Linked DNA regions of Homo sapiens: region 2 is linked to region 1. Evidence: fine-mapped expression QTL. A gene starts in region 1. The other region holds a variant in brackets. All regions are shown on one strand. Distances are between the middles of the regions.

Evidence for each region. PIP is the estimated chance that this variant, and not a neighbour inherited with it, causes the effect. A credible set is the group of variants that fine-mapping cannot tell apart.
Region 2: its variant is the best candidate, but not a certain one, in a credible set for the expression of NKAIN1 in nucleus accumbens (GTEx, PIP 0.62).

What each region holds. Positions count from the first base shown.
Region 1 is chr1:31,237,954-31,242,335 of GRCh38, forward strand. It overlaps NKAIN1 (sodium/potassium transporting ATPase interacting 1), which reads right to left and starts at 1,934. Exons shown (of 7, transcript NM_024522.3): 1 at 1,541-1,934. The coding sequence starts at 1,594.
Region 2 is chr1:31,206,350-31,210,731 of GRCh38, forward strand. All of the region lies in intron 1 of NKAIN1 (sodium/potassium transporting ATPase interacting 1), which reads right to left. Among named protein-coding and RNA genes, the nearest start is that of NKAIN1, 31 kb to the right of the region's middle. The variant A/AC (reference allele first, on the strand shown) is at 1,994.

The sequences.
Region 1 (4,382 bases):
TGGCATTTCATGTTCCTCAAAGTAGATAAAGAAAAACAGACAATCTCTGCCCTTCTGGAGTTCCCATTCCACCTGATCTTAATTAATTCCCTCTGCAATCCTCAGGGATAATCATTTTACAGATAAGAAGACTGAGGCCGGCCAGTGGGGGGAAGTCACTTGTCCAGTCTCCCACAGCTGGGAGCAGGGCTACAATCTCCAGAGCTAGGGCTGTTTCCACCACTGCCCAGGCCAGGTCTGTGGATGGCATGTTTGAAGCTGGTGTCCCCAGGAGGAGAGAAGCAAGACGAATGAGGAGGTCTGCATGTCCAGGCTCAAAACTTCACTCTACATTATCATTGGCTCCTGTGGTGGGGAGGGCGTGATGGATGCAGGCAAGAGTGGAAACCCAGAACAAGGAGTCCAGCATGAGGGGGGCTCAGGCTCCTCGCTGCCCACTCTCAGACCTGGGTTCGGCGATGGAGGTCCCCATGCACCTCTGCCTAGAGGAGAAGCACAGCTTCAACCTCCCTAGTTGTTCAATCTCAGCTCTAGGGTAGGTAGGAGACCCCTGCCTCTCCTTAACCACCCTCCCAAATTCCCCTGCCAGGGCCTGATTTGAAGGGCAGTGCTGTTTCTTCTAGTCCACTACAGTCACTCCTCCCTGAGACAAGAACCTGAGTTCCCTATGCTGGGGCTAGGCACAGTGTCCTCAGATGCTCTGGTCCTCCCTAGGGCACCCAAGTGTCCCCATCCCCACTGTTGCTGGCCCCGGCAGAGGAGCTGCTCTGGTGGGTGGAACTGATGACTGATGGAACCCCCATGGCCACAGCGGCCAGACCAAAGCAGGAAGTGTGGTCCAGGCTGGGTCAGGCTGGCCCAGGATCTGGCAGCTCCTGGTGACCCTCTCCAGGGAGGTGGCTCTCCTTTCCCAGGACTGCCCGGTCAGGAAGGTGAAGGGAGGCAGAAACAACACAAAGGATTGGAGGGTTCTTGGAGTCTAAGATCCCAGAACACAGATGAACATGGGCCAGAAATGGTCAGCGATTTAGAGACACACCAAAGAGAAACCCTGAGAGACACACGCCGGAGCAGAGACTTTGTGAGAAACGCTCACACAGGGGTGGTGATCAGAGGCAGAGACCCAGAGGAAGGGAGAGACCCATGCAAACGAGGGATCTAGAGGGAAACACACAGCAGGACCTCAACGGATCCACAGATCAGCCTCAGACACACCCCCAGTCCCAGCAAGCCACCGTCCCACAGCGCATCCCCCAACAGGAGGCCACTTGTACAGTGCGGGCGGGCCGGGGACTCGCGCACAGGACGCACTTGGGGACCGGAGGAGCGCCGGGCACAGCAGCGAGAAGCGCACACAAAGAGACAGCCCGGCCAGCGGGAGCAGGCTCCGCCCGACCGCTCCGAGACTCCAGACCACCCCCCGCCCGGGCACACGCACCAGACACACACACAGAGACACACGCAACCCCACCCGCACGCCCTGGGACCGCGCCCCGCCGCGCCCCACCCTGCCCCGACTGCCTGGGCACGCGACGCTTACCAGCTGCAGGCAGCAGAAGGCGACCAGCGTGCAGCGCCCGCTGCACTTGCCCATGGCTCCGGGGGCTGCGCGGGCCGCACGCCGCGGCGCCCTTCTTGCTCCGCGGCCGCCGCCTGCTCGCGCCGCGCGGGCTCCACGTCCTCCCCGCTGGGCGCGCCGGGCGGCGGGGCCGGGCGCCTAGGGCCGGGCCCGGGAGTGTCCGGTCCCCAAGGCTGGGGCCGGCCGCCCGCGCTCCGAGTCCATGGTCCGTCCGTCCGCGCGCTGGCCCCGCCGAGCCGCGCCTCCTTTGTCTAGCGGGCCGTCCGTCAGGCGCGCCTCCTGCCCCGGGGCGGCTGGCGGGGAGCGCGGAGCAAGGAGAGCGAGCCCCGAGCGCGGCGCAGCGCAGAGCAGCACTGCCCAGCTGGGGCAGTCGCCCGGGCTCTCGTCGGCCGCGGCTTCCCGGCCCCACCACGTGGCTCCGCCGCCGCCACCGACAGGGAGGGAGTTGGGGGGAACGGCAGAGGGGTGGGGCGGGGGAGCCGCCGGAGGGGAGGGGAGAGGGATAGGGAGGTGGAGGGTTGGAGAGGCAGGGAGTGAAGTGGAAGAGTGCGTGCGGGCTTAGGGGACAACAGCCCTGAGTCAAATCCAGACTTTGCTGCTCACTCGCTGTGTGACCTTGGGCAAATCACGTCACCTCTCTGGACCTGTTTTCTCATGAACAAAGTAGGAATAATTATGCCTCTTTAGTGTAGATATGAAGATGAAATGCAGTCATGTGAATAAAGCGCTTAGCCCTGTGCCTGGCCTCCTGGCTTGGAACACTTTTTTGTCCACCCTGTCTCTAGGGCTCCAGGGTTCCAACTTGGACTTCTAGTTCTATTTACGTTCCCAGATCTGCTCCTCACCCCAGCCTCTCCCCTGAGTGTCTGGCCACATTTTTCGCCTTCCTTCTTTCCGTCTACTGGCATTTATTGAGCCCTGACTGCATACACACCCCTGGGGGCCCTGCGAGCCAGAGATGAGACCTGCAACACTGTTCCAAATCCCGTAGAGCTGCACCGCCCAGGGAACAGATAGGCTCCCAAGAGCACGCCAGTGAGATGGGTGATGGCAGAGATCTGCCCAGGTGGAGGTAGGGAGCCCCTACCCTGGGCTGCAGTAGGGACAGAGTCAGAAGTTTCCCAGCAGAAGATTGCCTTCTCCAAGCCACCCCCAAAAGCCCTCGAACTGGACACATCTCAAATCCACATAATCATTCCTGTCCCACTCCTAACTTCCTATATTCACCTTGGCAATTAGCATCACCCAAGTGGAATTTCCTAGGTCATCCTCCAGGCTTCCCTACAATTACATCTGATCTGTCACTACATTCTATAAACTGTACTTTCCAACTAACATTTATGAAATACCCACTATGTGCCAGGTTCTCTGCTGGGGATAAGGGAACAAAACCCGACAAAATCTCTGCCCTCATTGAGCACACAGTCTAGTGAGGGATTGTCATTAAAACAAGGAAATATACAAATAAATACGCAAAGTTCTGATGAATACTCTAAAGAATATTAAAGAAGAAACGTGGCACGGTGGCTCACACCTGTAATTTCAGCACTTTGGGAGGCTGAATCAGCTCACTGCAACCTCCACCTGAGTGGAGATCGGCCTCCCAAAAGTGAGTGGATCACCTGAGTTCAGGAGTTCGAGACCAGCCTGGCCAACGTGGTGAAACCCCATCTCTACTAAAAATACAAAAATTAGGCAGGGATGGTATCAGGCACCTGTAATCCCAGCTACTCAGGAGGTTGAGGCAGGAGAATCGCTTGAACCCGGGAGGTGGAGGTTGCAGTGAGCCAAGACCATGCTATTGCACTTTAGCCTAGGCGACAAAAGCGAAACTCTGTCAAAATAAATAAATAATAAATAAAATACTAAGGGAGAAAAGAGAGAATGAGAGGGGCATAATTTAGGTTTGGGGACCAGGAAACACCTCTTTGAGGAAACGAAACTGATACTGAGACGACAATAGGAAGGAAGGAGAGGCAGGGGAGTGAAGAGTGTTCTGGTGGAAGAAACAGAAGGTTCTTATTCTTTCCCTTCCTCTCCACTCTCACTAGCCCTCTTGATTCGAGAGACAGGAAGTATGGTAAGATGTAGGTTAGGACCCGTGGTTTTGGACCCAAACGGCCTGGGTCCCGGTTCCAGCACTGTCACTTGTTTGCTGCTCACATAGTAAGCATGCAAATAAATGTGTCACTGTTTTCTTCCAGGACTGGCTACATAGTTTGGGGGGCCCAGCACAAAATGAAGATGCAGCACTTCTTGTTAAAAAATTAAGAATTTCGGCCAGACGCAGTGGCTCATGCCTATAATCCCAGCACTTGGGAGGCCTGGCCAGATGACAAGGTCAGGCGTTCGAGACCAGCCTGACCAACATGGAAAAACCCTGTCTCTACTAAAAATACAAAAAATAATTAGATAGGTGTGGTGGCACATGCCTGTAATTCGCAGCTACTCAGGAGGCTGAAGTGGGAGAATTGCTTGAACCCAGGAGGCAGAGGTTGTGGTGAGCTGAGATCACCCCACTGCACTCCAGCCTGGGGCAACAAGAGCAAAACTCCATCTAAAAAAAAAAAAAAAATTAAGAATTTCAAGATGGCAACACAGCAGAGCGTGAAGTCAAGAACATGCAGGGGGCCGGGCGCTGTGGCTTACGCTATAATCCCAGGACTCTGGGAGGCCAAGGCAGGCGGATCACTTAAGGTCAGGAGTTCAAGATCAACCTAGCCAACATGGCAAAACCCCATCTCTACTAAAAATACAATAATTAGGCCAGGCGTGGTGGCTTATACCTGTAATCCCAGCACTT
Region 2 (4,382 bases), 32 kb before region 1:
AACTGAGTAAATCACAACCATGAAAGCAAGTTATATAGTAGTATGTGGTTTTTATTTTTATTTTATTTTTTAAATTTTTATTTATTTTATGTATTTAGTTTTTTGAGACAGGGTCTCACTGTTTTGCCCAAGCTGGAATGCAGTGGCGTGATCTTGGCTCACTGCAACCTCTGCCTCCTGGGCTCAAGTGATCCTCCTGTCTCAGCCTCCTGAGGAGCTAGGACCACAGGTGCACACCGCTACACCTGGCTAATTTTTTGTATTTTTGGTGGAGATGGGGTTTCACCATGTTGCTCAGGTTGGTCTCAAACTCTTGAGCTCCAGCAATTTGCCCATCTCAGCCTTCCAAAGTGCAGGGATTATAGGTGTGAGCCACTGCACCTGGCCTATTTTAATTTTTCTGACACAGGGTTTCACTCTGTTGCTCAGGCTGGAGTGCAGTGGCATGATCATGGCTCACTGCAGCCCCAACCTCTGAGCCTCAAGAGATCCTCCTACCTCAGCCTCCTGAGTAGCTGGGACTATAGGCATGCACCACTACGCTCAGCTAGGTTATGTATTTTTTTGTAGAGATGGGGTTTCGCCGTGTTGGCCAGGCTGGTCTTGAATTCCCAACCTCAAGTGATCCGCACGCCTCAGCCTCCCAAAGTGCTGGGATTAAAAGTGTGATCCTGTAATCCCACCTGGCTGTATGTGCTTTTTAAACTGTGTAGTGCTGTGCCCACATGTGCCATTATTAGGATAATTGTTAAATCCTTGGTTTCATACCAAGATCAGATTCTTGCTGCTTGTTCCCCAAGAAGCTGTACACCACAGAGGTTAAAAGTATGGCCTAGGAGCCAAACTATCTGGGTTTGAATCCTACCTTTAATACTTATTAGCTGTGTGACCTTCAGTAAGTCACTTAACCTCTCTGTTCTTTAATTTCAAATCCCGGCTCTGTCATTTATTAGCCAACTGTAAAATGGGGATGATGATAACAGTACCCATTTCAAGCGAATGTTGTGAAGCTTAAGTAGGGAATATGTGTCAAATGTTCAGAACACTGCCTGGTTCATAGCCATAGAAGTGTTAGCTACGATGATTGTTCCCTGTAGTGCAGACTCTGGGCCTGTGTTGCTCATACAGAGGACTCATGTACTGAAGGAGAAAGGATCACAGTTGTCCTAATGTGCAGGTCACTTTGAGGCCAGGTGGTATTTCACCCCACTCATCCCCAAGCAGCCCAGCAGCTGCCTGACCCCCCTGCCCCACTCTTGTTCTTCTTTGCCCATGAAGCATTCATGGGCACTGACCCTGGGTGCAAAGAGGAACAGCCCCTGCCCTGGCCACGAGCTGTGCCAAGTCTATGGTGACACAGACAAACTTCAATTATCAAATTACACAAGCCCAAGGAAGAGGGCAAGGACTGAAACTGACGCTGCCCACCCTCTGGGGACTTGCACTGAGCCCGCCCTGTACACGCTGCTTGATGTCCATATCATGTACTCCTCTCAACCCTTGGAGAAGTGTCATTTTACATACATGGATACTGAGGCCCAGGGAGGTGAAGTAACAGATCCCAGGTTACACAGTCAGGAAGCGGTAGAGGCAGGAACACAGATCTGCAGGCTCTAGAGCCTGTCTGCCACCACCCCAGGTTTCCCCACTAGCTCTCCTGGTCCACAGATGGCCGCTGGGCCCCCAAAGCATCACCGCTGTGGCCTGACTCCCTGCACTACTGGAACTGGAAACTCTCCCAATGGATCCGCTCATGCCACCGATGATGGCTGAGATGTGTTCTGTTCAAATCCCCACTCCATCATTTACTAGCCGTGTGACCTCTGGCAAGTGTTTAAATCTCCCTAAGCCCGTTTCCTCATCTATAAAAAGGAAAAGAATAAAACCTCAGAGTCACTGTGACACTAAAGGATGCAAAGCATAATGCCTGGTACAGAAGAAGCACCCAACAAATGCCATTCTTTGGTCTCCTCTGAGTCCAATTCTTTCTTCC[A/AC]CCCCCCGCTTATGGAAACTTGTGTTCTGTTGGAGATCCGCCTCTGCTGCAGCTTTCTCATTCCCGGCTTCCTTTCGTGAAGATTTCTTTCATTCTTTCCAGAAGCCTTTCTTCCTTGCTAATAAGAGAAAATGCAGAAGTCCTACCCACAGGCCTTTGCTACCCTATCAAGCAGGGAAGCCTACCTGCCTTCACAGCACCCCTGGGGGTGGGGATCCCAGACACAGAGACACCAAAGCTCACAGGATCCTGCAATTAACCCAAGGTCTATGTGGCCCCCACATAGTGGGGGGAGGGGGCCCTGGAAACCTCTGATGTAAGTGCACAGTTTGTTAGGCCACAGGCCTCCCTCAAAATGCTCCCTTGAAGCTGCCCCGGACTTTGAGAGCGGTCAGCCCTTGTCTACAGCAGAGGCGTTACACAAACCTCCTGACTTTCAGGAACTCTGGCTCTTCCTGTTCCGTGCCACACTCTGGTGTGGGTCTATAACATGCTGTCGGACTCTGCGAGTTGTGATACTGAGGCCTTGGGCAAATCACACTTGATGTTCCAGGGCTTCAGTTTTCTCATCTGTAAACTGGGCAATATAACTCCTACCCTTCTCACCTCCCAGGGGGTGGGAGTGGATCCAATGGGGTAACTGACATCCTGGGAGCCATCAAGCTCTCCCTTCACAGGGAAGATGCCCTCCGTGGCTTTAACAGGAAGACCATCCCACTGGGCCAAGACTGGGCCAAGAAATGCAGCCCAGGGCTGGAGTGGTGGCTCTCACCTGTAATTCCAGCACTTTGGGAGGCCGAGGCAGGTGGATCACCCGAGGTCAGGAGATCGTGACCAGCCTGACCAACACGGTGAAACCTGGTCTCTACTAAAAACACAAAAGTTAGCTGGGCTTGGTGGTGGGCACCTGTAGTCCCAGCTACTTGGGAGGCTGAGGCAAGAGAATCACTTGAACCCGGGAGACGGAGGTTGCAGTGAGCCGAGATTGCGCCACTGCACTCCAGCCTGGGTAACAAGAGCAAAACTCCATCTCAAACAAAACAAAACAAAACAAAAAAACAACCAGCAGCCCAGCAGAGTGCAGCCTCCACCCCTCTCCCAGCTGAGAATCCCAACAGCAGATTCCACCTCCAGGGAGTCTCCTGCAAAAAGGGAGTCTCCTGGAACTCTTTTTTATCCTAAAAGAATACGTATAGCCAGGCATGATGGCTCATGCCTGTAATCCCAATGTTTTAGGAAGCTGATGCAGCATTGCTTCAGCCCAGGAGTTTGAGACCAGCCTGGGCAACATAGTAAGACCCCTGTCTCTACAAAAAATAAAAAAAGTAGCCAGACATAGTGGTGTATGCCTGTAGTCCCAGCTACTCCGGAGGCTGAGGTGGGAAGACCACTTGAACCTGGGAGGTCAAGGTTGCAGTGAGCTGTGATCGCATCACTCCCCTCCAGTCTGGGTGACAAAGTGAGACCCTGTCTCTAAAAAGAAAGAAAAAAAAAGTTAGCCAGGTGTGGTGGTGCATGTCTGTAGTCCTAGCTACTCAGGATGCTGAGGTGGGAGGATCCCTTGAGCCCAGGAGGTCGAGGCTGCAGTGAGCTATTGTTGGGCCACTGCACTCCAGCCTGAGCAACAGAGCATGACCCTGTCTTATTAAAAAAAAAAAAAAAAGATAAGAATGAAGAGGACTCACAATGGCTGATCCAGCATCATCCAACACATCATCCAGCATTCTACTCTGAAATAGAGCCTCCTCCTTAGTTCACGCCCACCAAATTCAGGGTAGAATGATGCTTTGCAGAAATGCATTATGTCTTAGTAATGCATCTCTTAGGGCTCAGCGCCCTCCTTTTCCCAAGCCAGCAGGTACAAGAACTGCAACCTCAGAAGCCAGCCATACCCACGGGCCACAAAGCTATTAGGTTTGGTGCAAAAGTAATTGTGGTTTTTGCCATTCTTTTTTTTTTTTTTTTTAATGGAGTCTCACTCTGTCGCCCAGGCTGGAGTGCAGTGGCACCATGTTGGCTCACTGCAACCTCCGTCTCCTGGGTTCAGGCAATTCTCCTGCCTCAGCCTCCTGAGCAGCTGGGATTACAGGCACCCACCACCACGCCCAGCTAATTTTTATATTTTTAGTAGAGACGGGGTTTCACCACGTTGGCCAGGCTAGTCTCGAACAACTGACCTCAGGTGATCCACCCGCCTTGGCCTCCCAAAGTGCTGGGATTACAGGCGTGAGCCCCCACACCCGGCTTGCCATTACTTTCAATGGCAAAAAACGCAATCTCTTTTGCACCAAACCTAACAGTAGGTCACTCAACACAGCTGAGCCCGTTTCCTCATCTGAAATGGAGATCATTTCTAACAGAACCCACATCTGTGCATCAGGCCAGGGAA